Regions from separate parts of the Homo sapiens genome. Here region 2 is linked to region 1. The links come from fine-mapping of genetic effects on gene expression. A gene starts in region 1. The other region holds a variant in brackets. All regions are shown on one strand. Distances are from middle to middle. Region 1 holds the start of CYP2C18 (cytochrome P450 family 2 subfamily C member 18). Region 2 holds the start of CYP2C19 (cytochrome P450 family 2 subfamily C member 19).

Evidence for each region.
Region 2: its variant is fine-mapped to the expression of CYP2C18 in lung (TOPMed, PIP above 0.99).

The regions. Positions count from the first base shown.
Region 1 is chr10:94,669,081-94,687,219 of GRCh38, reverse strand. It overlaps CYP2C18 (cytochrome P450 family 2 subfamily C member 18), which reads right to left and starts at 3,491. Exons shown (of 9, transcript NM_000772.3): 1 at 3,233-3,491. The coding sequence starts at 3,400.
Region 2 is chr10:94,750,879-94,763,641 of GRCh38, reverse strand. It overlaps CYP2C19 (cytochrome P450 family 2 subfamily C member 19), which reads right to left and starts at 961. Exons shown (of 9, transcript NM_000769.4): 1 at 769-961. The coding sequence starts at 936. It also overlaps the pseudogene MTND4P19. RefSeq lists enhancers at 2,667-2,693, 5,416-5,710 and a promoter at 938-2,901. The variant T/G (reference allele first, on the strand shown) is at 4,268.

The DNA of each region.
Region 1 (18,139 bases):
GATCCACTGGTATAATCACCACAGAAGGAGAGTGGATCCAACAGAGATAGTATCAGGATGTGTGGCATCTCACAGAGGAAAAATGTTTTCCATGCTATACACTCATAGGTCACAGACAGCAGCTTTGTACAGAGGCCATAAATATTCTGTTACCACCCAGATGGCCCTGACTAATTAATTCTTTCTTTCATTCGTTTATGTTTATGATGAACTCATAGATATTTCTTTGACATCAGGCATGATTTGCTTTTTTAAGACGTTTAATGATCATGGCTAATCTAAGCAAAATACATAGCATATACAGTGACTGACTTCTCAAAATCTTTAATCACAAAACACTTCCACTACCATTTTCCTTCAGGCAAAAAAATATAGCAAATGACTGTGAAGCAAAGAAAGCAGCAGGCCTTTATCATTTTGATTCTACCTTACCACTTGAAATGTTTCTCTTCTGGCAAAATGCATTATTTTATTCCACTATTTCTGACAATGACAAAAAAGAAAAACATACTCCACAGGAAGTATTTGCTTTACAATAGCATACTTTAATAATCAGCCTCTGCTGGTACAGGAGGAATGCTGAGGAATGTTCCTATAACATATAACCTTTAATAACTGGCCTCCAGTAATACAGAAGTTTCTATGTGACATTAACGGTTATATGTGGCAAGCCCACAGCTAACATCATATTTAATGGTGAAAAGCTAAAAGCTTTTCCTCTAAGATCAGAAATAAGAGAAGAATGCCCCCTCTGACCATTTCTGTTCAACAGAGTACTGGAAGTCCTAGTCAGAGCAATTAGACTAAAGACAGAAAATATTCATATAGGAATATTCGTATAGGAAAGGATGTATTCATGTAGGAAAGGATGAAGTGAAATTGTCTGTTTCCTGATGAAATAATCTTATATGTAGAAAATCTAAAGACTTCAGTACAAAAGTGCTAGAACTGATAAACAAATTCAGTAAACTTGAAGGATAAAAAATCAACATGCAAAAATCAGTGGCATTTTTATACACTAGCAACAAAATATCTAAAAAAGAAATTAAGAGAACAATTAATTTATAGTAGCATCAAAAAATAAAATACTTATGAATAAATTTAATCAAGGAAGAGAAAGATCTATATACTGAAAACTACAAATCATTGATGAAAGAAATTGAAGATGACACAAATAAAGGCAAAGATATCCCATGTTCATGGATTGGAAAAACTAATAGTGGAAAAATGTCCATATTACCCAAAGCAATATACAGATTCAGTGCAATCCCTATCAAAATTTTAATCTCATTCTTCACAGAAATAGAAAAAAAATCTTAAAATTTGTATGGAACCACAAAAGACCCCAAATAACTAAAGCAAATTAATCAAAAAGAATAAAGCTGGAGGCATCACACCACTGAACTGCAAAATATGTTACAAAGCTATAGTAAGCAAAACTGCATAGCATTAGCATAAAAATAGACACACTGATTAAAGGAAAAGCGTAGAGAACCCTGAAATAAGCCCACACATCTATAATCAATTGATTTTTGACAAAGGTGCCAAGAACATACAATGGGGAAAGCACTCTTCAGCAAAAGGTGTTGGGAAAACTGGATATTCATATGCAAAGAATAAAAGAGAATCCTAATCTCACCCTTATACAAGAATTAACTCAAAATGAATTAAAGCCTTAAGCATAAGACCTGAAACTAAAAACTACTGAAAGAAACCATATAGAAAAACTCCATGACATTGGTCTAGGCAATGATTTCTTGGATATGATCCTAAAAGTACAGGCCATGAAAGCAAAACTAGACAAATGAGATTCTGACCACCCAAAATACTTAGAAACTCAAATTACTCAATAACAAATAAATAATTCTATTTAAAACGAGCAAAGGGGTCAAGTGCAATGGCTCATGTCTGTAATTCCAGCACTTTGAGAGACAAAGGTGGGTGGATTGCTTGAGCCCAAGAGTTCAAGACCAGCCTGGACAACATAATGAGACCACATCTCTACAAAGCATTAAAAAATTATCCAGGCATGGTGGCATACACCTGTAGCCCCAGCTACTTGGGGGTCTAAGGTAGAAGGATGGCTTGAGCCCAGGAGCTCAAGGCTGCAGGGACCATGATCCCATCACTACACTCCATCCTACAACAGAGCAAAACCCTGTCTCTATTAATTAATTAATTAATTAATTAATTAAATGGGCAAAGGATTTGAGTAGACATTTTTCAAAAAAAGACATACAAATGGCCAAGATATATTTTTTAAATACTCAACAAATTTAATCATCAGAGAAATGCAAATTAAAACCACAATGAGATAACTCATCACAACTCATAGATAAGATATTATTATTATCAAAAAGATAAAAAGATAACAAGTGTTGACAAAGATGTGGAATAAAGTGAACCTTGGGTATGTAAATTAGCATTGTGATTTGAGAAAACAGTATGGATGTTCCTAAAAAAAACAAAAATAGAACTATCAGATGATCCAGCAATCCCACTACCAGTATATACCCAAAGGAATTGAAGTCAGTATGTGGAAGACATGTCTGTACTTCCATGTTTATTGCAGTGCTATTGACAATAGCCAAGATATGGAAACAACCTAAGTGTTCATCAATAAATTAATGGATTTTGTATGTGACATATATGTACAATGAAATGCTATTCAGCCTTTTAAAGAGGAAAAAATATTCTTATTTATGACGGCATGGATGAATCTACAGAACATCATATTAATTAAATAAGCCAGGCAGAGAGAGGCAAATATCATATATGATCTCACTTCTATGTGGAATCTTAAAAAGTTAAACTCAGAGAAGTAGAGATTAGAATGGTGGCTACCAGAGGCTGGCAGGTGGAGATGGGCCAAATAAGGGGATACGTTGGTCAACAGGTACAGAGTTACACTTAGATAGGAGGAATAAGCTCGGGTGTTCTATTGGACAGCAAGGTGACTATAATTAATATTAATGTACTGTATATTTCAAAACAGCTAAAAAAGAGGATTTTAAATGTTCTCACTACAAAGAAATGACAAATATTTGAGATGATGGATATGCTAATTACCCTGATATGATCAATTCACAATCTATACATGTATCAAAATGTAATATTGTACCCCATTAATATATACAATTATCATTTATCACTTTAAAATGAAATAAAACTTTAAGAATTGTGAGGTTAAATACACCTTGTACATTACTGGAGGAACATAAAGCATACTTACATTGGTTAAGGATTTGCTCATGTCCTTAACATCTAACTGCAGGATATTTCCAATAATCGGGAGAGGAGTGGGGCCAGACGGGAGCCTCCCTCTTCCAGAGCTCTGCCTCCAGAGTGAAAGGAGAAACAAACAGGAGAGACAGAGCACCAGAGCCACAGCTGGATCCATTGAAGGCTTCTCTTCTTAGTAAGACAACTGCGGGCTTTCACTTCAAGGCTTTTATAACACTCCCTACTAATCCACCTGTGATTCTGACTCTGACTGTGACTAGTCAGCAAAAAGCACTTTAATCTCTCTTTTGAATGAACATTGGCTCACTGAAGAAGATAAAAATAAGGTGTTCTTTTTTCTTGTTCTTTCCGGTGCCCCACCCTGGAGATTCTGGTTTAACTAGTCTGAAGCAGAGCCCAGGATTTTGTTGTTGTTGTTGTTGTTTTTCCTTGAGATGGAGTTTCGCTCTTGTTGCCCAGGCTGGAGTGCAATGGCAAGATCTCAACTCACTGCAGCCTCCACTTCCTGGATTCGAACGATTCTGCCTCAGCTTCTGGCGTGGCTGGGATTACAGGAATGCACAACTACGCCCAGGTGATTTTGTATTTTTAGCAGAGACAGGGTTTCACCATGTTGGCCAGGCTGGTCTCCCTAAGTGCTGGGATTACAGGCATGAGCCACCGTGCCTGGCTAGGCCTAGGTTTTTTCAAACAGCCCAGGTGGTTCCACTGTGCAGCCAAAATTGAGAAACAATGAAATAAATTATTTCATCAAAAAATTATTCAAAATTTTGGATTTTTAGATTGATGAGCAGTTGGAAATATGACTTTGAGGGCAATCTGTGTATTATATTCCTTGTACATAAAATAATGTTTATCCTATTGAGAGGAGTTAGCCAGCTTGCATTAGGCAGGCAGTAAGGGAAGGGTCCCCAGAGAACCTCCAACCCTTCCAGGTCATTGCCCAATCCACAAAAACCCCAAGTACTTACACTAGATGTTTTGTGCAGATAAGGGAACTTGCACAGGGAGCTTGCCTAAATATGCCCACAGTGAAAAATTCCTACCTTTAACACATGCGCAGGAAGGGAAATAAATCAATATGGAGTGGCTTAGACTAAGAGCCCACACGCGCAATGGAAGGAAGGGGTGGAAACACCAGGAATTCACGCCTTATGCAAATAAGTATCCCAGCCTCATCAGCTTTTCTATAAAAGTCCTGGTATTCAACTGTGAAGTGGCAATCTGCAACCTGCTTTCAGGGCCTCTCTCTTTGCTGAGAGTTTTCCTTTCACTTAATAAATTCTACTCCACTCACTCTCCAGTGTCTGTGTGCCTAATTCTTCCTGCATAAGACAACTCGGACCTAGCTGAGCTAAGGATCTGCAAGACTGCAACACTATAATGCTTTCTCAAACACTAGATCATTTTCCTTGAAAATGAGATCCTTTTGAAATATTTTAATGTAGTACTAACATTACAGCTGCCTAAACATAAAGCAGCTAACAAACTCATTCATCTTAAATGGCTAAACCGGTTATCAATTAACTAAGTAAACATACACACCTTTTTCCATTAAACCCCGTGAAAAACACTGGACGGCTGAGAATATTATTTCATATTTTCCAAATGGGGAAAGGGAGACTCTAGGAGAACAGATGACCTGTCCAGTGTCCCACAGCTCATAAATGGCAGGCTGGGATTTGAACTGAGATCTTCTGACGCCCGCTGTGGTATATTCTCACTTACACCAGAGCTGCCTTGAGAACAGTTTTAGCAAAATAAAATAAATCCTAAAAACATTTCTCACTCTGAATCTACACCACACTGTTCACAAAATAACAGGGTTGTACATTCTCAAGAGAAGAAATAAAAGCTAGGGTTTCTCCCCTCTCTGTCACTGAAGAGCTGAAACCTACTCAGTATAACTGAGGAAAGAGCCAATCTCAGAGAATTAAGTGGGTAAGATCTCAGAAACTATGGCTTCTCCAGCTCCCACTTGCCTCCAGACACTGCTGTTTCTATTGCTTTTTTGGTCTGTGTCAGAAATAATGGAATGAAATATTGCACAGCAAGGAAGGGGAATTATAGGCAGAACAACAGGCATGTGCTTCAGTGGTGAATGGGAGGTAGGGAAATCATTAAACAGACCCATGGCACAGAACAAACACAGTTGTGCAGACCTGAACTGGAGATGACATTTAGCGCTCATGAGGCTCTATATATCACTAAAATGATACATACATTTCTAGATCACTAATGGCAATGCTTGTACAAAGGCATATTCTGTAAAGATGTCATTGTGGTATTCTAAATGACTAGTACAGTTATTTGTTTATTTCCATTGTATATATTTAAGGTATACAACATTGGTAGACATATAAACAGTGGAATCATTACTATGGTTAAACAAATTTACATATTAATCAATTCTATAATTAACTTCTTTTTTGTGGTATAAGCACCTAAAATCTACTCTTTTAGCAAATTTTCAGTATAGTATATTAACTATAGTCCTCTTGCTGTTTATTAGATCTTTAGACTTATTCATCCTATCTAACCACAAATTTGGCTCTTTGACACACTTTTTTCCATTTCCTCTGGCTCCCACTTTTGGTAACCACCATTCTACTCTCTGTTTCTATGTATTTGACTTTTTAAAGATTCTTCATATAAGTGAAATCATGCAATCTTTTTTCCTCTGTATCTAGCTCATATCACTTAGCATAATATCCTTCAGGTTCATTCCATGTCATTGCAAATGGCAGTATCTCCTTTTAAAGTTTAAAAAATATTTCATTGTGTATATAAATATAAAACACAATTTCTTCATCCATTTATTTGTGAATGAACACTTAGATTGTTTCTACATCCTGGCTATTGGAAATAATACTGGATTAGTGCAGTTATTTCTAACTGCAGTAAGGAAAAATTAAGTTTTGTCAAATCCCATATGGACAATGTTTTATCAAACATGTTTACAGGGATTCTGACAATTCACAGAGAATTTTTATACCCATCATAACTCTTTTGATTCTCTCAATTACCCTTGCCTGTGGTAAAATTATTTCCACTTTAGAGGTAAGGAAGCTGGGCCTTGGAGATTCAGTATTTTGTTCAAGGACACAGAGGCTGAAAATGATAGGGCTGAGGCTGGAAACCTATCTCCTAACTCTGACATCATTCCCTCCAAGCAAGAAATTCAGTTCAACTAGAGTCACCAACATTTACTTACCATGTACTATGAGGCAATATTTCACTACTCAGGATAATCAGTGACTTTCAAATACACATTAACCAACTCAACAGTTGCAACATAGGTTGATTACAATTAGGGTGTGGTTTTGTAACCTTTAGAATTTGAGTCAGTCGAGGTTTTGGTGAATAATTTATCTGAGACAAAGAAAAATAGTTATTTTACTGCTTGGCTCACATAGCTCTGAACTCTAAAAGAAGTGCACTACCTTCTTTTAGATAAAATGATCTCAATGCCTTTCTTTAAAACAATCACTTTATTTCTTGAAAAATGGGTCTCTGTTCCTCCTTTCTGTTGAGACTTCTGCCTGGTCCTTTCAAAGAATGAAAGAAACATAGATAATTAGAGACAAGAGATCTCAGAGATCCACCAGCCTAATCCCTACTTTATTATTAGAAATAAGGAATTGGTGAATAAGTGAGGTGAACGGTCGCTAGTGCATTAGTACATAATCTTTATTTTTTAAGAATCCAGGTTTTAATTCCCAGTTCAGTGATTCTCACATTGCAGAGATTTCCTATCATTGCCCAAATGGATGGTCAGGAGGGCACCTGGCTGAAGCCCTCCACAGTGAGAGAGTAATGCAAACCTCAGCTTGGGTGAAATTGTGAATGCAAACTGCTTCGTTTTAAATAAACCTTTTCACTGGAGTGTAGTATACAAAGAGAATGTTGGAAACATCCTAAATGTATATAGCTCAATGAATTATCATGAATTGAACATATCTGTGTAATCAACACACAGGTCAAGAAAAATAATTTTGCCAGGACCCCAGAAGTCCCTTTATGTCTCCTCCTACCTTCCTCCCCGACTAGATAACTCCAGTATTATGCCATAGGTTAGTTTTGCCTGTTTGTGAGGCATACAAATGTAATATAAATGGAATCACATTATGTATTTTTAAGTATCTAGTATTTTCACTTAATTTTGTGTTTGTGAGATTCATTCATGTTGTCACAAATAGCAGTACGTAAGTTAGTTTAGAGTGTTTTATTTTATAACAATTCCAAAATTTATCTTTTCATTGTATTGTTAAGGACTTTTGAGTTGATTCTAGTTTGTGGCTATTGTGAATAATGCTGTTATTACTCTAATACATTGTTATCCCAATATAAGGATTTCTGTTGCTATAACTATGAGCATAATTGCTGCATGTGCATGTGTTCAGTTTTATTAATGACTGCCAAAGAATTATCCAAATGGTTTAATAAATTTACAATTGTACTGAGAGTGCCAGCTGCTTCTCTTTCTTGCCAACCCTTAGCATATTGTCTTTTTTCATTTTAACCATTTTGATGTGTGTGTAATAATATCTTATTGTAGTTTTAATTTGCATTTCAGTGAAGGTTCATGATGCCGGGTGCTTTTTCAAATGTCCTTTGGCAATATCAAATCTTTTGTGAAGGGCTTGCATAGATTAGATATGAGTCCATTATTGGTTTTATGTGTATCACTTATCTACATATATGCATATCTATATATATGCATATCTATATATACACATATATACACAAATGCATATGTATTTTATATTTATATAATTTTAATAACTATAAATGTAATAAAAAGTTGGAGGTACAAACAGAGAATTTTCTCTATTTTGAACATTTGAGAGTAATTTTGGACCTGAAGTTCTAAACCTGAAATATTTTAGTATATAGCTCTTATAAGCAAGGCAATTTGACTATATAACCAAAATATAACTTTAAAATTCAGGAAATTAACATTGATGCATTAGGGCCATCTAATCCTCATTTCCATTAGTGTTTCCTCAATAAGTCCCAATGATATTCATTGTATTCATTTCAGAATCCAGTTTAGAATCCTGAATCACATTTTGCAACTAGTTGTCATGTCTCCTTAGTCAACCACAGCCTGACACAGTTCCTCAGTCTTTCCTCAACCTCCTTGACCTTGTCACTTTTGAAAAGCATAGGTTTGGAGTTTTAAAAATTTCTCTCAATTTGGGATTATCTGATGTTTCTTCATAATCAGATCCTGACTATGCAGATTTGGCAGGAATATCACAGATGATGCTTTGACTTCTCATTGCATCATATCTGGTGACAAATAATTTCAATCTGTTCCATGATGGTTGATGTTTACTTTGATTTTTGAGCCAAGATCGCACCATTGCACTCCAGCCTGGGTGACAAGAGCGAGACTTCATCTCAAAAAAAAAAGAAATACTTTGTGGGCAGATTCTTGATACTACATAACTATATATTCCTCATCAAGTTTTTAATGTATTCATGTATTTATTTATATCATTACGGAATCACGAATTCAGTTGTGTTCAATGGGTTATAATCCATTATAACATTATTTACTTTGGTGCTCAAATTATCTTCTAATGACTGGATTCTGTGTCCTTTTGTCATGTCCCCCTCAATCCTTAAGCAATTCCTTACTTCCTGGCACAGCAAGATATTCCAGGCTCATCTTTTCCTTTTTTTTTTTTTTTTTTTTTTTTTTTTTTTTTTTGAGACAGAGTCTCACTCTGTCACCCAGGCTGGAATGCAGTGGTGAGATCTTGGCTCATTGCAACCTCTGCCTCCTGGGTTCAAGCAATCCTCCTGCCTCAGCTGGGATTACAAGCACCTACTGTGGATTCTCACTAAAGAGGGAGGAAGACTTAGATTTGTGACTCTTTGCCTCTATTCCAACTCATCAGGAGACCTGATGGCCACTGGGGCCCTCAAACACTTCATAAGAAAAATTATCCTATCCCAATATCACCTCCTTGCCAAAATGCTGTCTTTGGGCTTCACCTGCTAATGTTATCATTGGCATCTTCCACAAAAGCTTGGGTGTGGGACTTTGCTGCTTGAGGACAAAGTACAGAGGTAGTTCTGCTCAGCAGCCACAGGGGGCAAAAACAGAGTTAAGCAGATCCCCAGGGTTGGCATGTGGAAAGGTGTGGGAGAAAAAAGCACAGCTGAGGAATTCAGGCAACAAGTCCTGGGTCTGAGGCTCAGACCCTTCTTACACTACAAATGACAGATGAGGTTGTACTGATTCTGAGCCTGGTCCAGAGCCACAAACATTTTCAGCAAAGCAGCTGTCAGACTTCTCAGCAGAACTGTGTCACAGATCCTTGGTGTCAGCCAGATCAAAGTTTGTAATGAGACTGTAGAAACTGCAGACTGTTTGACCACCACAGAGTCTCAGGTTTCCTACCTGTATGTGGATGCAACATAGAAGTAGGCAGTTCTTGCATTGCTATAAAGAAATACCTGAGGCTGCGTGAGGTGGCTCACATCTGTAATCTCAGCACTTTGGGAGGCCAAGGCAGGTGGATTGCTTGAGTCCAACAGTTCAAGACCAGCCTGGGCAACTTGGCGAGACCCCATATCTACTAAAATACAAAAAATTAGCCAGGCATGGTGGCACGTGCCTGTAATTCCAGCTCCTTGGGAGTCTGAGGCATGAGAATCACTTGGACCCTGGAAGCAGAGGTTGCAGTGAGCCAAGATGGCACCACTTTACTGCAGCCTGGGTGACAAAGTAAGAACCTGTCTCAAAAAAAAAAAAAAAAAAGAAAGGAAAGAAAGAAATGCATGAGACTGGGTAATTTATAAAGAAAAGAGGTTTAATTGGCTCACAGCTCTTCAGGCTGTCCAGGAAGCATGGCGCCAGCATCTGCTTGGCTTCTGGGGAGGTCTCAGGAAGCTTTCAATCATGGCAGAGGGCAAAAGGAGGATCTGGCATCTCACAGGGTGAAAATGAGAACAGAAGGGAGAGTGGGAGTTGGGGGGCTTGCCACACATTGTAAAACAACCAGACCTCACACAAACTCACTCACTATCACAAAGACAACACCAAGCCTGAAGCCATAAGGGATCTACCCCCATTACCCAAACATCTCCCACCAGGCCCCATCCCCAATATTAGGGATTACATTTCAACATGAGATTTGGGTGGGACAAATATCCAAATCATATCAATGCCTATCAGAGGGCTTGGGAAGCTTCCAATATAAATAGTCTTTGGAATTAGCGGCGGAGCTGCCCAGCCTAATTCCCAGTGACTCATTTAAGGGCAGACTCTTTGGGGCTGTTGAGCAAAAAGGGTGTTGTAGGCAAGAGGGGCCCTCTCATTTCTGTTCACTGATAACAGTATAAGAGTTTCACTTTCTAATAATGGTGCAGTCACTAGTCCAGCCTCACTTTCTCACAGATAACAATTATTAAATCTGAACAACTTATTCATCAGAAAATAGTTCATAGAATGCATTCAAAAGCCACTCAAATCAAGCAGATCTTAGAGGGGATTACCTGAGAAGCAGAAACTACAAGAAGTGAGTTCTCTACATGTACAGCTTTTCAATTGAGGACAGGCCACAAGATGCATTAAGTATTAAACTCCACACAAATGACACAGGATAAAATAGGAAATCTGAAAGCAATGTTGGTTAAAGAAATTGATTTTATAATCAAAATTGACCACACAAAGTCAACTTCAACTTTAGATGAGTTTCCTCACAAATTCTATCAAATTGAAGGAAGTAAAAACACCAGCCTTACAACTCTCTCAGAAGAGGAGGAAGAAAGAACACTTCCTGATTTGTTGTAGAACACCATTCCCACCCTGACACCAAACATGGCAAAGGCATCATATGAAATAACATACCAGTATGTCTCAAGAGCATGTTTATACAAATTGTTAACAAAAGGTACATATATTGATCCAGCAATATGTGACAAGAACAAGACAACATAACCAATGGTATTTATCAACAGAAAGGCATGTTAAGTTTTTAAAATCCATATTTGAAGTCCACCTTTGTTAACTAAATGATAAATTTAAGCATAAATTCACCTCAATATACTCAAGAAAATCATTTGAAAAAATTCATCACCATTTCATTATGGGGGAAAAAAACTCTCAGCAAAATTAAAATAGAAGGGGATTTCCTGTATGTAATAAAGTTTATCTATAAAGAGTCTGAACTAGCTTTATCTTTAATGGTGAAGGATAGAAAAATTTCCCAACAGTTTTAAGAACAAGGTAAGCTCTCATCACTTGTACTCTACATTAGGTGGAGGACTTAGTAAGTGCAACATGACAAAGAAAAGAGAAAACAAATCAGAATATTGGAAAGGAAAAAGTAAAATTTTCCCTCTTCACAAAGGCTTGAACTTACATGTAGAAAACTTAACCCATTTGTTCTTAAAAACTACTTGCAATAAAATGTGCCTGAGATTGGTTTTAATCAGGTATGGTAGGACACACAGACACAGAAATTCTTGTCATGAAGGAAGAGCTTTTTACTCACCATTCCCTACAAACAAGATTCCCCACATGATGCAGGCCACATGGGAAGCACCCATGTTGGTCAGGAGCCAGAAGAGGGGCATAGGAGAAGCAGGAGCAAAAGCCTTTGTTGCAGTTTCTGTGGGAAGGAACGGGCAAGACCAAGTAGGTAAGCTGAGTAAGTTTAGGACTGGCTAGTTTGAATTATCTCAGCAGGCTCTGGGGTGTAGGAACTGACCCTAGCTGCCCTGGGATGATTAGGACAGGAATATTGTGTCTTGGAGTGTAAGAGCTGGATAGAGAAGATGGGTGAGAGTATGGACTCAGGATTGCTTGGTCTGCATGGCATGCTCACAGGAAAGTCATTTACTATCTCTAGGAATTAGTTAACCCCAAGAGGGAGAAGCAATCTCTCCCTGATCAGTGAGGACCCGATGTTAAAACTTTGTAAAACATAAAAAATTAAAAGCACAATTAGAATGATTTGTCCTCTGATGGTTTGACATCACATTAAGGGAACTTTAAGGTGATAATAGTGGGGACTTTTAAAAAGTAGGGCATATGTTGCCCTCAACAGCACAGAAAATATTGTGTTATGACAGTAGAAAGGAGCAATACAACTAGAGGTATAAGGAGTCCTAAGTTCCCACTTATATGGCATTAGTCAATAAAATGGGTCTAAAATTTTGGGGGGTTTCTAACAACATCTTTGTGGAGCTGTAAAGTGAAAATATGAGTTTGACAATAATATCTCATTGTATTTCTCAAGTTTAGGTGGCAGGTCCAGCAGTTATATTGTTGGAGAGTATGAACCAGTAAGTCAGTAAAGTATATGTAAAGTGATGTGGTTGTCGTGTGTAACTAAGGGGAAAAGGGGGTTATAGTTAGAGATGCAGGGCAGAAGGCCATGGTGAAAGCTGGAGAAGTGCTAATGGGAGAAGGCATGGAGGAGTGCATGGTTCTCTCTCCAGGGACCAAGGGGTTAACTGAGATGAGGCAGGTGCTCCCTGGGGAAAGCCATAATCTCCTCTAATTTTTAGAATGGCAGATAGTATTAACCCTGTCTTAGTCCATTTGGGCTACTATAACAAAAATGCCTTAGACCAGATGAGTTATAAACAATGGAAATTTATTTCTCACAGCACTTGAGGCAGGGAAATCCAAGATCAGGGTGCTGGCAGATTCAGCATCTGCTGTGGGGCCATTTTCTGATTCATAGTTGGCTACTTCTTGCTGTGTTCACACATAACAGGAGGGACAAAGGAGCTCTCTGGAGCCTCTTTTATCAGGGCATTATCCCATTCACCTCCAAGAGGCCCCACCTTCAAATACCATCACACTGGGGATTAGGTTTCAACATATGAATTTTGGAGGGACACAAACTTTCAGTCAATAGCAAACCTCTAAACCTCTACCTGATTTTCCTTTAGGCATAGGAGTGTTAAGGATGTACATTTTGGCAGACAGCAAGGAGAATACCAGGATCATAGGCTAAACAGTCAACAAGCTCAGAAACATAATAGGACCTCTAATACCAGAGAAAGAAAAGCGATAAATGTCCTGTGTTCAATTTGTGCCTTGAGAAAGATAATCCATGGGTGTTGCTGGGGCAGAGGTTTTAGTATCTAGGATGAAATCATCCCTGATAAAAGGGTGAAGTCATCTCCAATGATTAGGTCTTGGACTTGAGTGATGTCATCTGAGGTGATGTAATCTCCAGCAGTGAACTCCTGGGCCAAGGTGATGTCATCTGGGATGTGGGATCATGGTGTCCCTTCTAAGGGCATACACATTTGAGTGAATATGGGTCTTCATATTTACCATGCTTGGTTGAAACAATGGCCTATGGCCAGGTGTAGTGGCTCACACCTGCAATCCCAGCACTTTGGGGGGCCAAAGCAGGCGGATCGCTTGAGCCCAGGAGTTAGAGACCGGCTTGGGCAACATAGTGAAACCCTGTCTCTACTAAAAATACAAAAATTTTCTGGGTATGGTGGCATGCACATGTGGACCCAACTACTCAGGAGGCTGAGATGGAAGGATCGCTTGAGCCTGGGAGGTCGAGACTGCAGTGAGCTATGATCATGCCACTGCGCTCCAGCCTGGGTGACAAAGCAAGATCTTGTCTCAAAAAAAAAAAAAAGAAGAAGAAAAGAAAAAGGTAACAATGTCTTATTTGAAGAGCTCCATAATAGACCCTTATAATAGGGCTCCATTTATAAACCAATGAAAGCACCCAGACTACTAGTAATAAGGCCAACAGTCACCAGAATCATATGTAGCTGCACTAGACAGGTTTTTGTTTCTTAGTTTTCCTGTAGTTTTTCTGTGGAAGTTTATGCTCAAATGGGTCCCCTATGAGATGAGCAGCTGCCCGGCCCGTGGGACAGTCTATGGTTTTTTCTTCATAAGTATTTCTATAATCTATATATTTATTTTTAGTGTAAAATACTTTCTTATATGAGTGGTTTTACTTTGTTCACTTTGCATTTTTCAAAAATGGAGTGCTGGCAAATTCCGTGTCTGGTGAGGGTTCACTTTCTGGTTCATACATGGCTCCTTCTCTCTGTATTCACACATAACAAAAGGGACAAGGGGACTTTCCTCACTTTGCACTTTTTTTAATTAAAAAAATTTCTTAATTTTTTTTAAAAAATGCAAAGTGAAGAAAGTAAAACCACTCATAAAAGTATTTAAATGACAAATAATAATTGCATATATTTATGGGGTGCAATGCAATATTTTTATATATGTATTTGACATATATGTATATTGTGGAATGATTAAATCAAGCTAATTAACATATCCGTCACCTCACCTACTTATTTTTGTATGGTGTGAATATTTAAAAATCTACTCTTGCAGCAATTTTGAAATAACCTGAATGTAATATAATTTTTAGGATAGTAATAGTAAATCAATATTATTTAAATTATTCTCATTTGTGATGGTTAGCTTGATGCATCAACTTGTTTAGGCTGTAGTACCCAGGTTATTCAATCTAGCAGTAATGTGGTATTGCTGTAGAGGTATTTTGTAGATATAGTTAACATCTATAGTCACTCGATTTTCAGCAAAGGAGATTATCCTTGATCATGTGGACAAGGCTCATTCTATTAATTGAAAGGCCTTTAAGAGCAAAACCTGCCACCTTAACTTGAGAAATACAATGAGATATTATTGTCAAACTCATATTTTCACTTTACAGCTCCACAAAGATATTGTTAGAAATCCCCCAAAATTTTAGACCCATTTTATTGACTAATGCCATATAAGTGGGAACTTAGGACTCCTTATACCTCTAGTTGTGTTGCTCCTTTCTACAGAAGTAGAAGGAATTCCACCTAGGAACTACAGCATCGTGTTTTTGCCGAAGAGTTTCCAGCCTCCATGGTTGCCCTATAGATTTTGGACTTGTCAGCCCATACAAACAGTAAGCCAATCCGTGTGTGTGTGTGTGTGTGTGTGTGTGTGTGTGTGTGTGTGTTTCGTATTGGTTCTGTTTCTCTGAAGAAACCTCAATAACACAGATTTTAGTATGTAGAGTGGTTCTAAAGGAACAGAATCTTAAGGATGAGTTTTCTAAATTAGTTCTGGTCTGTCTGAAATTGGTTCTCTTATCTGATTAGATTTAAAGGCACTAATGACTTTATTTCCAGTGATAATGAAATCATTGGTCATGGCATAATGTGGCAATAGAAATATGCAAGATACTGCCATTGGAATCTCATAATTAAATATTTATAAAGGGCAAGGTCTGAGTGCCACATATTTGATACCTTAGGACATGTTAGTAAAAATAATGAATATAATGACTGGCTGGCTGCTCCTAACTGCTCTGGAGAAAGTGGGGATAGAAAAGGATGATCTCAGGGCTTCAAATTCTCAACTCAGGGCTTCAATTTCCACATAAGCTCCACATAAATGACCCGAAAGTGTCTATGTCTGCCTTGAAAGAAATGCTTAAGGCAGGGTGCAGTAGCTCATGGCTGTAATTCCAGCAATTTGGAAGGCCAAGTAGGGTGTATCGCTTGAGCCCAGGAGTTTGAGACTAGCCTAAGCAACAAGGCAAAACCCCATCTCTACAAAATATATATATATATATATTAGCCAGTTGTGGTGGAGTGTGCTACAGTACCAGCTACTCAGGAGGCTCAGGTGAGAGGATCACTTGAGCCCAGGAGGTTGAGGCTGCAGCGGGTTGTGATCGCACCACTGCCCTCCAGCCTGGGCAACAGAAGTGAGACTCCATCTCAAAAAAAAAAGAGAAAGAAATCCTTATCTCCTGTAGCTACAAGGCTAAGATTGCTGAAAATCAAACCCAGACTTTCATCCTGTAAGTGGCAAAATTACAACACAAATTGAATTCCGAACATTTCAGGGTGTCTTCTGCTAAAGTGAGGGCTTGGACTTGGAAGGAATGGAATTGTGAACATTGGAATAGGAGCACACAGAGCAGATCTCAATGCAGCTGGGGAGACTGAACCTTAAAATCTGTTGTGTCTCCTTTGCCAGTAGAAGCAGCCCTTCAGCCCTGTCTGTGGAGGTTATTATTGTTTTGCCTGAAGAACCTGTAATGGCCTCCCTTGAGGCCTTGTATGGCACTGGAGGGCCCCAACCAACCTTCTTTGCTTCTAGACCTACAATTAGACTCAAGCCCCAGCAGGCCTGGAAGGGTAACCCATGAAGGGGTAGCCTAAACACCAAAATGATTGCATGATATTTCCAATTCATGCAGATAGTAATCTGGGGAATATGTGTAAGAGTGGAAACTAAGAGTGTGGGATAATGGTGAATGGAATACAAAGTTAGATCAGGCCAGTTTATTGACATGAGTTCACTAAGCAGAAATTCCAAATTCAATGTTGTAGCTTGATGGGCTAGAAAAAGCCTAACAGTTTGTTTGGTTGGTGGTTGCTTGGCTGAAACACAGAATAAAAAATGGCCTAAACTAAACAAAGTTAATGTGCCAGAACTGCTTGGTACACTGTAGAGGAAGGGATTCAAAGACTTAGACTCAAATGTCAGAGTGAATTTATCTTATCAGAACTGCTCACACATCCCTAGTGGGGTCCAGTGGATCACCATTCAGCACAGCTATGAGAAATAAATTTGTAAAGCGATCCCCAGCATCCTTGAAGAACTCTGTGGTTTTTCTTCTCTATAAGTCAGAAATTACAATGCGAACTGAACCAGAATCCTTCAATGCAATGAGGATAATTGAATCCCAGGTTAACAAGGGCCAAATTGTAGCACTTAGCCACCAAAGACGAAACGTTCGTAGTTATCATAATGGACAGTGGAGTTAAAGCAATAATCAGAATAATCTGACTCTTATCTACTTATGGCACTGGTCACAGTGTCCCTACAAGAGGAATGGATGACCGGTCTACCAAATTCTCAGCTGGTCTGTATAGACATTAGGAGAGTTCTAGAGTGAGTGAACAGAAGTCTAACTTGAATCACCCAAACATTGAGTCATGACCCCTCAATCTATTCCCGGATTTGAGACAGTTTGCAGACCTAGAACCCGTTGAAGAGGCATCCAGTTCCCCTTAAAGAATTGCCCTGCTAAATTCCAAAAAATGTATACTGTGAATCTTTCTTCCAGACTTTCCCAAAGTCTGATGTTTTACCACAGTGAATGAAGTTACTGTAACTGGATCTAAATTGACAGTAATTCTGAGTGACCCCAAATACCACTTTGATCCACCAGTCAGAGTAAAGTCTTATGGAAGTCAGGTGATCAATGGAGGTTTAGCTCAGGTCTGTCTCCCAGTGAGCCCAGTAGGGTTTCAAAATCATCTTGTGTTTATTTCCCCTGTTCCAGAATGCATAATGTAAATAAATGTACTCAGCAACTGGTAGGATTCCCAAATTGCTTCCCCAAGCTATATAGTGGCAGCTATTATGGTAGGAAAGACCAAGTAGAAGTCCCTAGAACTTCCTCTACCTAGGAAAATGGAAACTAAAAGCAATACCACATTCCTGGAAGGATTGCAGTGATTATTTTCACCATCAGGAATTGAAAGATGCAGTGATGGTGATTCCCACCACATCCTCACTCAACTCACCTATTTGGCCTATGAAGAAAACAAATGGATCTGGAGAATGACAGTGAATTATCACAATCTTAACCAGGTGGCAACTCCATCTAAAGCCATTGTTCCAGATATTATTTCATTGTTTGAGCAAAATTAAGACATCCTCTGATAACTGGTATGCAGCTATTGACCTGGCAAATACTTTTTTTGATACATGTTAGTAAATACCACCAGAATCAGTTTGCTTTAAGCTGGGAAAGCCAGTACCAGCCCTTTCACTCTCCTACTTCAGGAGTCTATCAATTTTCCAAACTTGTGTCATAATTTAATCCATAGGTACTTCGATCACCTTTCCCTTCTC
Region 2 (12,763 bases), 79 kb before region 1:
TTCTCTTGATCTGATCATACCATCATGCTTATAAGGCTTAATATACTAATCGCAGCCCTTTACTCTCTGTATATGCTAATAACTACACAATGAGGTGTATTCACATATCATATTAACACTGTTAAAACATCTTTTACTCAAGAAAAAACCGTAATGCTTATACATCTTCTAACCCTCTTTCTACTATTACTAAACCCTAAGGTCATTTTGGGGTTTATATATTGTAGCTATAGCTTAATTAAAACATTAGTTTGTGGATCTAATAATTGAAGTCTATAACTTCTTATCTACCGCTTATCTGCTTTTGCTGGTCCTAAACCCACAGCTGCTTCCTTTACAACAGGCATAAATTATTTCTTCAGAGAAGTTCAATTTTCACGGCTATTCTGAATAAAACACATGGCTAATATAGTAGAGGACTTATTTAATAAAATCTCTAATAACAAACACTTCCCTTACTGTTTACCCTCAGCCAAAAATTCTAGCAAATGGCTATGAAATAAAGAAGGAACACAACATTTCAAACTATTGACAGTTTGTTATTCTGAATTTAACATGCAAAGACCTAAATCTTTCTCTAATAACAAAATATATTATTTCATTCCACTATTTCTGACACTGACAGACTGGAAAAGGCAACAAAAGCCTTTCAAAGTATTTTACTTTACAATGATCTCTTGTAACATTGTACCTCTAGGGATATACTTTATTTAAAAAATACAGGTGAATTTACTTACCTTTTGCAAGCCACTGAAGGAGCATACTTACATTGGTTAAGGATTTGCTGACATCCTTAATATCTATCTGTAGGATATTTCCAATCACTGGGAGAGGAGTGGGGCCAGGAGGGAGTTTTCCTCTCCCAGAGCTCTGTCTCCAGATTGAAAGGAGAAGCAAACATGAGAGACAGAGCACAAGGACCACAAAAGGATCCATTGAAGCCTTCTCCTCTTGTTAAGACAACCGTGAGCTTGCACTCCAAGCTTTTTATAACACTCCATGCTAATTAAGTGTGTGTGCCTCTTTGATGGATAAAGTGGCCAATCACCTAGGCCCACTATATGCTCCTTCTGAAAGGACTTTGACCCACTGATAGAGATAAAAATAAAATGTCCTTTGGTCTTGTTCTCCTTCGTCCCAGTGCCCACTCTGTACATTCTGGTTTCATTGTACTAGGTTGAAGCCTAGGTATTGGTAATAAAAACAAAAAAATGTTAACCCAAGTGGTTCCAATGCACCGTCATAATTGAGAGCACTGAAGTAAACAATCTGATGCAAAAACAATTACTTAAAATTCTGAATTCTTAGATTAATAACCAGTTGGGAATTTATGATTTAACGGAAATGGCCATATTCTATGCCTTGTATATTTAAAAAGTATGTCAATCCTATATCGAAGATTAGGAGACTTTGTCCTTTATAATGAAATCCTCTATTTAATATAGCCTACTAAAAATACAGCAGCCTAAACATGAAATAGCTAACATAACTCATATATCTTCAATAACCAAACATATATCAAGTAAATTACCTTAGCAGATATAAACACCTTTACCATTTAACCCCCTAAAAAAACACGTGAAGGCAGGAATTGTTATTTTTTATATTTCAAATGGGAAAAGGGAGACCCTGGGAGAACAGGACACCTGTTGGTGCCACACAGCTCATAGCTGGCAGAACTGGGATTTGAGCTGAGGTCTTCTGATGCCCATCGTGGCGCATTATCTCTTACATCAGAGATGCTTTGAGAACAGAAGACACAAATTTGAAAAAAAAAATCGTTTGCTAAAACTTTGTTTTAGCAAAACAAAACAACTTCCAAACATTAGTTATTCTGAATATATACCACATTCATCCTGTTCATAAAACAGGCTTCACATTAAATAGAACCACTTATTTATCTAAGGAAAACAGCCCCAGAGATGCTCATGAGAAAAAATAAGAGTTCTCCCTTCTCCATCACTGCAGAGGGGAAACGCTCAGTGTAACTGAAGGAAGAGCTGATCTCAGAGAATTTGGTGCTAAGGGCTTGAGAAACTAAGGCTTCTTGACCTCCTGGTCTCCTCCAGACATGGCTGCTTTATATTGATTTTGCTTTCTGATTTTCAAAAAAAAATGTAACAATGCAAAGCAAGCATAGGAAATTATGGGCAGAACAACAGTTGTGAATCTAATAGAGGATGGGAGGTAGGGAAATCACTAAATGGACCCACAGCACAAAACCACCACAATGTATAGACCTTAACGGGAGCTGACATTTGAGTTGAAGGTCTAAATACAACCAGAAAGATACACATTACTAGATCACTAACGACAATACTTACACAAAGCCATTTTCTTTAAAGATATCATCGTATTTGTTCTAAATTTCCTAATGAGGTTATTTCCAGTTCTCTTATTAAGAAAAAGTAAGTTATGTTAAGACACAATTGCACAATGTTTCACTGGTCATTTTTAACAGGGATTCTAACCCCATTTAGAGAGAATTCTCACACCTCATATCCCTTTGGAATCTCTCAATTGCCTTTGCTTACAATAAAATTGACCCATCTCAGGAATGAGGAGGCTGAGCCTTGAAGATTCAGTACTGTAGCCAAGAACATGGTGTCTGCTGGTGCTAGAGCTGAGACTAGAATTCATAAGCCCTGCATCTTGAAGGTTTCATTTCAAGCAAAACATTCAGTTCAATTGAGTCCACAGATATTTACTGATTGTGTACAATGGTTCAGTATTTCGTGATTCAGTCTAGTAAATGATTTTCAAAATAAATATTAATTTCATTAATAATTACAGCCCAAGTTGACTAGATTGGGGGTCAGAAGAGTTTGGTTTTATAACCTTTAGTACTTGGGTGAGTCCAAGGCCTTGGAGAACCCTTTATACAGGGCAAAGAAAAGCAATAACTTGGTCCCTGACTCACGTAACTTTAAACTCTAACAGAAATATACTACCTTAGTTTGGGTAAGATAAGCTTGGTTGCTCTCTTTAGAATAATCATTTCATTCCTTGAGAGCTAGGTGTTCCAGTTCTGCTCCTCCTCTCTTCTGCTAAGTTGAGGCTCCTCCCTAGATCTTTCAGTTTATACTATGAAAGAATTATAGATAATTTGAAGACAAAAGGGATCTCTGAGATCAACTATTCTAAACAGGAATTGATTTTTTTTTTAAATGAGCAATTGTTGACTCAGTGAGACAAAGTATCACAATGCCTCAGTATAAGACTTAGAATCACAGTTTTTCAACTCCCAGTTCAGTGACATATCACATCCCGTCTCATAGAATTCACATCTCAGTCCAAGTGATCAGGGGAGTATCAACATTAAGCCCTCCACAGTCACTGGGTAATACAAACCTCAGCTTGACTAGAATGGTGGGTTAAAGTAGGCTTTAGAAAAATGTATTTCTTAACAGCAGTTTGGGGTTTCCAGCAACACTAAGTGGAAAGTGGAAAGTATATAATTACCACATGCCTCTTTCCCTGCACCCACACACAGCCTCTCACAATCAAGAACTCTCATAGGTTACAATCAATGAACCAACATTGACACATCAACAACCAAAGCTCATAGTTTCTGTGGGGTTCATTCTTTGTGTTGTACATTCTATGGGATTTGACTAATGCATAATGACATGTATCCACCATTGTAGTATCATATAAAATAGCTTTACTGCCCTTAAAACCCTCTGTGCTCTACCTGTTCACCCTCTCTTCCTCACGAGCCCTAGCAACAAATAATCTTTGCAGTGTTGGCATAGTTTTGCCTTTTCCAGAATGTCATATGTTTGGAATCATACAGTATGTAGCCTTTTAAGATTTAACTTACTAATATGTATAAAATTTCTCCATGTCTTTTCATGGCTTGATAGTTCATTTCTTTTAACACTAAATAACATTCATTGTATAGGTTTACCATGTTGTCTATTCATTTATCTATTGAAGAACATCTTGGTGATTTCTAATTTTTGACAATGATGAATAAAACTGCTATAAACATCCATGTGCAGATTTTTGTGTGGAAATATATTTTCAATTCATTTGGCAAATGCCAAGGAGCACAACTACTAGATAATATAGTAAACATATTTTAGTTTTATTAGATACTGCCCAACTGTCTCCTGAAGTGTCTGTACCATTTTGCATTTCCACCAGCAATGACTAATAGTTCTCCTTGCTGCATATCCTTGCCAGTGTTTGGTTCTATCAGTGTTTTGAATTTTAGCCAGTGTATAAGTGTGTAATAGTATGTCATCGGGGTTTTAGCTTGCAG[T/G]TCCCTAATGACATTTAATGATTAGTACTTTTCATATATTTATTTGGTATCTGTATGTCTTCTTGGTGAGGTGTCTGTTCAGACCCGTTGCCCATTTTTTTAATCAAGGTGTCTGATTTCTAATTGTTGAATTTTAAAAATTTTGGATAGCCATCATTTATCAGATATATCTTTTGAAAAATATTTATCCCAGTCTGTGTCTTGTCATCTTATTCCCTTGATACTATCTTTTGTGGAGTAGAAGTTTTAAATTTTAATAAAGGCCAGCTTAGTTATTCTTTATTTCATGGATTGTGCCTTCATTGTAGTATTTTAAAAACCATTGCCAGATCAAGGTCATCTTTATTTTCTCCTACCTTATATTACCAGAGTTTCATAGTTTTGCATTTAGTATTTAGATCTATAATATATTTTTAGTTAACTTGCGTTAAAGATGTAAGGTCTATTTCCAGATTCATTTTTCTGTATGTGAATCTCCAGTTACTCCATTAGTCTTTGTGGAAAAGACTATTATTCCCCATTGAATTGCCTTTGCTTTTTTTTCAAAGATCAGTTGGCTGTATTTCTGATTATCTATTTCAGGCTCTTTACTCACTTGCATTAATCTATTTGACTGTTTCTTCACCAATTTCACATTGTCTTGATTACTGCAGCTTCATAATAAGTCTTGAAGTTGAATCAGACAAGGTTAATCACTTGATTTTGTTCTCCTTAACATTGGCTGTTCTGGGTTTTTTGGCCTCTCCATATAAACTTTACAATCAGACTGTTAATATCTAAAGATAAAAAATAATAAAAATAGAGGCCCCTCATTCCAAGATGGCCAAATACGAACAGCTCCGGTCTGCAGCTCCCAGGGTGATTGATGCAGAAGATGGCTGATTTTTGCAATTCCAACTGAGGTATCTTGTTCATCTCATTGGGACCAGTTGGACAGTGGGTGCAGCCCATGTAGGGCAAGCCAAAACAGGGTGGGGCATCGCCTCACCCAGAAAGCACAAGAGGTTGGGGGATTTCCCTTTTCTAGACAAGGGAAGCCATGAGAGACTGTACTGGGAAAATCAGGACACTGCCACCCAAATACTGTGCTTCCCCAATGGTCTTAGCAAATGGCACATTAGGAGATTCTACACTGTGCCTGGCTCAGCAGGTCCCATGCCCACGGAGCCTTGTTCACTGCTAGGACAGCAATCTGAGTTCGAACTGCAAGGTGGCAGTCTGGTTGGGGGAGGGGCATCCACCATTGCTGAGGCTTGAGTACATAAACAAAGCAGCCAGGAAGCTCAAGCTGGGTAGAGCCCACCACAGCTCAACCAGGCCTGCCTGCCTCTGTAGACTCCACCTCTGGGGGCAGGGCATTGCTAAACAAATGGCAGCAGAAACTTCTGCAGACTTAAACATCCCTGTCTGACAGCTTTGAAGACAGCAGTGGCTCTCCCAGCACAGTGTTTGAGCTCTGAGAACAGACAGACTGTCTCCTCAAGTGGGTCCCAGACCCCCATGTAGCCTAACTGGGAGACACCTCCTAGTAGGGGCTGACTGACACCTCACACAGCCAGGTGCCCCTCCGAGATGAAGCTTCCAGAGGAAGGATCAAGCAGCAATACTTGCTGTTCTGCAATATTTGCTGTTCTGCAGCCTCTGCTGGTGATACCCAGGAAAACAGGCCCTGGAGTGGACCTCCAGCAAACTCCCACAGACCTGCAGCTGAGGGAACTGACTGTTAAAAGGAAAACTAACCAACAGAAAGAACATGCACACCAAAACCCCATCTGTAGGTCACCATGATCAAAGACCAAAGGTAGATAAAACCACAAAGATGGGGAAAAACCAGAGCAGAAAAGTCAAAAATTCTAAAAACCACATGGCCTCTTTTCCTCCAAAGTATCACAGCTCCTTGCCAGCAATGGAACAAAGCTGCATGGAGAATGACTTTGATGAACTGACAGAGGTAGGCTTCAGAAGGTCGGTAATAACAAACTTCTCCAAGCTAAAGGAGGATGTTTGACCCATGGTAAGGAACCTGAAAACCTTGAAAAAAGATTAGACGAATGGCTAACTAGAATAAACAGTGTTGAGAAGACCTTAAATGATCTGATGGAGCTGAAAACTATGGCATGAGAACTATATGATGCATGCATAAGCATCAGTAGCCGATTGAATCAAGTGGAAGAAAGGGTATCAGTAATTGAAAATCAAATGAATGAAATGAAGCAAGAAGAGAAGTTTAGGGAAAAAAGAGTAAAAAGAAATGAACAAAGCCTCCAAGAAATATGGGACTATGTGAAAAGACCAAATCTACATCTGACTGCTGTACCTGAAAGGGACGGGGAGAATGTAACCACCCTGGAAATCACTCTTCAGGATATTATCCAGGAGAATTTCCCAACCTAGCAAGGCAGGTCAACATTCAAATTCAGGAAATACAGAGAACACCACAAAAATACTCCTCAAGAAGAGCAACCCCAAGACACAAAAATGTCAGATTCACCAAGGTTGAAATGAAGGAAAAAATGTTAAGGGCAGCCAGAGAGAAAGGTTAGGTTACGCCAAAGGAAAGCCCATCAGACTAACAGCAGATAACTTGGCAGAAACTCTACAAGCCAAAAGAGAGTGGGGGCCAATATTCAACATTCTTAAAGGAAAGAATTTTCAACTCAGAATTTCATTACAGACAAGCAAATGTTGAGAGATTTTCTCACCACCAGGCCTGCCTTAAAAAGCTCCTGAAGGAAGCACAAAACATGGAAAGGAACAACTGGTACCAGCCACCAAAAACATGCCAGATTGTAAAGATCATCAATGTGAGGAAGAAGCTGCATCAACTAACAGGCAAAATAACCAGCTAACATCATAATGACATGATCAAATTCACACATAACAATATTAACCTTAAATGTAAATGGGCTACAAGGTAATTTATAGATTCAATGCCATCCCCATCAAGCTACCAATGACTTTCTTCACAGAATTGGAAAAAACTACTTTAAAGTTCATATGGAACCAAAAAAGAGCCTGCATCACCAAGTCAATCCTAAGCCAAAAGAACAAAGCCAGAGGCATCACGCTACCTGACTTCAAACTATACTAGAAGGCTACAGTAACCAAAACAGCATGGTACTGGTACCAAAACAGAGATGTAGACCAATGGAACCGAACAGAGCCCTCAGAAATAATGCCACATATCTTCAACTATCTGATCTTTGACAAACCTGAGAAAAACAAGCAATGGGGAAAGGATTCCCTATTTAATAAATGGTGCTGGGAAAACTGGCTAGCCATATGTAGAAGGCTGAAACTGGATCCCTTCCTTATGCCTTATACAAAAATTAATTCAAGATAGATTAAAGACTTACATGTTAGACCTAAAACCATAAAAACCCTAGAAGAAAACCTAGGCAATACCATTCAGGACATAGGCATGGGCAAGGACTTCATGTCTAAAACACCAAAAGCAATGGCAACAAAAGCCTAAATTGAGAAATGGGATCTAATTAAACTAAAGAGCTTCTGCACAGCAAAAGAAACTATCATCAGAGTGAACAGGCAACCTACAAAATGGGAGAAAATTTTTGCAGCCTACTCATCTGACAAAGGGCTAATATCCAGAATCTACAATGAACTCAAACAAATTTACAAGAAGAAAACAAACAAGCCCATCAAAAAGTGGGCAAAGGATATGAACAGACACTTCTCAAAAGAAGACATTTATGCAGCCAAAAAACACATGAAAAAATGTTCATCATCACTGGCCATCAGAGAAATGCAAATCCAAACCACAATGAGATAACTTCTCACACCAAACCACAATGAGACAACTTCTCACACCAGTTAGAATGGCGATCATTAAAAAGTCAGGAAACAACAGGTGCTGGAGAGGAGGTGGATAAATAGGAACACTTTTACACTGTTGGTGGGACTGTAAACTAGTTCAATCATTGTGGAAGTCAGTGTGGTGATTCCTCAGGGATCTGGAACTAGAAATACCATTTGACCCAGCCATCCCATTACTGGGTAAATACCCAAAGGATTATAAATCATGCTGCTATAAAGACACATGCACACATATGTTTATTGCGGCACTATTCGCAATAGCAAAGACTTGGAACCAACACAAATGTTCAACTATGATAGACTGGATTAAGAAAATGTGGCACATAGACACCATGGAATACTATGCAGCCATAAAAAATGATGAGTTCATGTCCTTTGTAGAGACATGGATGAAACTGGAAACCATCATTCTCAGCAAACTATCGCAAGGACAAAAAACCAAACACCGCATGTTCTCACTCATAGGTGGGAATTGAACAATGAGAACACATGGACACAGGAAGGGGAACATCACACTCTTAGGACTGTTGTGGGGTGGGGGGCGTGGGGAGGGATAGCATTAGGAGATATACTTAATGCTAAATGACAAGTTAATGGGTGCAGCACACCAACATGGCACATGTATTCATATGTAACAAACCTGCACATTGTGCGCATGTACCCTAAAACTTAAAGTATAATAATAATGACTAAAAAAAACTAGAAAGAATAATATCATCAATCAATATACAACAAGAAGGCACTTCCTAATAATTGTCAATAAATTTACAATTCCATATCTGTTAAAATTATATTTGAAATGAAATCATGTTACATTTTAAAATGCAGTGTTTTATGCAATTTTCAATAAATACTTCCTACCTCAAAAAAAAAGTTATGTTTACACTATACTGTAGGTTAAGTGTGCAATAGCATTACATATAAAAAGTGTGCATAACAATTTTAAAATACTTTATGACTACAAAATGCTAATGATCATTAGAGTCTTCAGCAAGTCATAATCTTGTTGCTAGTGGAAGGTCTTACCTCAGTGTTGATGGCTGCTGACTAATCATGGTAGTGTTTGCTGAATCTTTGAGTGGCTGTAAAAATTTCTTAAAATGAGACAGTGATGAAGCTTGCCACATTGACTCTTCCTTTCATGAAAAATTTTTCTATTGCATGTGATGCTGTTTGATAACATTTAATCCACAGTAAAACTGCTCCTGAAATTGGAATCAATCCTCTGAAATCCTGCTACTTCTTCCCCAACAAAGTTTATATAATATTTTAAATCCTTTTTTCATCATTTTAACAATGTTCAACAGTAGTAGATTCATTGTCAAGGAAACAATTTCATTGCTCATCTGTAAGAAGCAACTCCTCATCCAGTAGAGTTTGATCATAAGATTGCAGCAATTTAGTCACATTTTCAAGCTCCATTTCTAATTTTCTTGCTATTTCCACCACATCTGCATGCATTTACTTTTTTTTTTTTTTTTTTTTTTTTTTTTTTTTTTTGAGACGGAGTCTTGCTTGTCACTCAGGCTGGAGTGCAGTGGCGCGATATTGGCTCACTGCAAGCTCCACCTCCCGGGTTCATGCCATTCTCCTGCCTCAGCCTCCCGAACAGCTGGGACTACAGGCATCCACCACCATGCCTGGATAATTTTTTGTAAATGTTTTTAGTAGAGACAGGGTTTCACCGTGTTGGTCAGGATGGTCTTGATCTCCTGACCTCGTGATCTGCCCGCCTCAGCCTCCCAAAGTGCTGGGATTACAAGTGTGAGCCACTGCACCTGGCCTGCATTTACTTTCTTTACTGAAGTCTTGAAACCCTCCTAGTCATCTATGAGGGTTGGAATCAATTTCTTCCAATTCATGTTAATATTGATAGTTTGAATCCTCCCATGAATTACAAATGTTCTTAATCTTTTTCAAAAGGTTTTTAATTTAGTTTGCACACATTAATTAGAGGAACGACTATCTCTAGCAGGTGTAGCCTTCTGAACTGTACATATCAAATAAGACTTACAAGTTGAAATTACTACTTGATTCATGACTGCAGAATAAATGTTGTGTTGTCAGTAATGAAAACATCTCCTGATACATCTCCATCAGAGATCATGGGTGCCATGATTAGCTGCATTGTCAAGCAGCAGTAATATTTTCAAAAGAATTTTTTTCTGAGTGGTAGAGCTCAAAAGTGGTCCTCAGATATTCAGTAAATTATGATGCAAACAGATGTGCTGTCATCCAGACTTTGTTGCTCTTTTTTCTTGAAAAAGTTTTTGAAGTATTCCCTTAAATACATTTTCCATGTTGTTTACTTTATCTTCTCTCACAGGAATGCCAATAATTCATAGGTTTGGTTGCTAGACATAATCACATATTAATCAAACCCTTTCTTCATTTTTTTAATTCTTTATTTCTATCTGACTGGGTTAGTTCAAAAGAGTGGTCTTCAGACCCTGAAATTCTTTCTTCAGCTTGGTCTACTCTATTGATAAATTTTTCCATTGTATTCTGAAATTCTTTAAGTGAATTTTTCAATTCCAGAATTCTGATTGATTTTTTTAAAGATGTTTATCTTTTTCTTCATTTCCCAGATTGCTTTAGTAGTTTTTTTGTGTTGATTTTCATTCTTGTCTTGAATTTCACTGATCTTCCTTGCAATCTATATTTTGAATTCTTTATATGTCATTTCTGAGTCCCCATTTTGCTTAGGGTTCATTTCTGGGGAGCTAGCATGATCTTTTGGTGCTTTACAAGATTCAGATATTTCATGGTATCAGAATTCTCATGATGGTTCCTTCTTATTTGGAGAGGCTGCCACTTTTAATTTTTTAGATTATTTTTCTGTGGATAGAATTTTTTCTTTTCCTATTATTTTTTTCTTTTCCTTTATTCTTCCCTCCCTTCCTATGGGGTGTGACTGTAGAGTATATTGGGCAAGGTCTTTTGGCTTTTCTTCTACAGCCCTATGCCCTCTGTCGGCAGATTTTACATTAAACTGTCTGACTCAACTTACAAGCAAGTAGATGGCACTTACAGGTAAGAACCAGCTGTGGCACAAGCAGATGGGTATGTAGTGGATCTTTGTTTACTGTGAGATGTTCTCTGTTGTTTAAGGTGATAGGCTGGACATTGGAGTACCCAGTTCCCTGAGCTTCCTGTTCTGTGGGGATGCAGGGCCACAGCTGGGCAAAGCTGGCTTGCCCATAAATACCTCAGTGATGAGCACAGGCACGGGATTTGATGAGTATGGCTGAGAGGAGCTCCTAGTAAGATTCACTGATGTCTCTGTGAAGGGCAACTGGGCTGCACCAGCTCCGTGTCCTAGATAGGCAGAAACATAATGCTTCCCTCTCACACACACAAAAAAAATTGAACTAATATCCAGCATCTTCTCTGACTACAATGGAATAAAACTAGAAATTGGCCAGGTGCAGTGGCTCATGCCTGTAAGCCCAGCACTTTGGGAGGCTGAGGTGAGCAGATCACCTGAGGTCAGGAGTTTGTCACCAGTCCGACCAACATAGAGAAACTCTGTCTCTACTAAAAATACAAAAATTAGCCAGGCATGGTGGTGCATGCCTGTAATCCCAGCTACTCGGGAGGCTGAGGGAGGAAAATCACTTGAACTCAGGAGGCAGAGGTTGTGGTGAGCTGAGATCGCACCATTGCACTCCAGCCTGGGCAATAAGAGCAAAACTCTATCTCAAAAAAAAAAAAAAAAAAAAAAAACTAGAAATCAATAACAAGAAATTTTGGAAACTATACAAATACATGGAAATTAAACAATACACTCCTGAATGACCAGTGGGTCAATGAAGAATTAAGAAGGAAATTGAAAAAATTCTTGAAAAAAATAATAATGGAAACATAACATACAAAAACCTATGGAATGCAGCAAGACAAGTACAAAGAGGGAGTTTACAGCTATAACTGCTTGCATCACAAACAGGAAAAACTTCAGATAAGCAATCTAATGATGCATCTTAAAAAATAAGTAAAGCAAGAGCAAACCAAACCCAACATTAGTAGAAAAAAAGAAATCACAAAGATCCGAGCAGAAATAAAATTGAAATTTAAAAGCAATACAAAAGATCAATGAAACAAGACATTTGTTTTTTGAAAAGTTAAACAAAATTGACAAACCTTTTTCCTGATTAAGAAAAAAGGAGAGGAAATACAAATAAATAAAATCAGAGATGAAAAAGGAGACATTACAACTGATACTGCAGAAATTCAAAGGATCATTAGTGGCTACTATGAGCAACTATATGCCAATAAATCAGAAAATCTAGAAGAAATTGACAATTTTCTAGACATATACAACCTGCCAAGATTGAACCATGAAGAAATCCAAAACCTGAGCAGACTACTAACAAGTAACAAGATCAAAGCCTTAAGAAAAAAATCTCTCAGTTAAGAAAACCCAGGACCCAATGGCTTCACTGCTGAATTCTACCAAACATTTAAAGAAGTATAATACCAATCCTACTTAAACTATTCCAAAAAATAGAGGAGGAGGAAATACTTCCAAACTCATTCTACAAGGCCAGTATTATGCTGACACCAAAACCAGAACCAGACAAAAAAAAGAAAATTACAGGCTAATATCTCCGATAAATATTGATGCAAATATCCTCAACAAAATATTAGCAAACCAAAATCAAC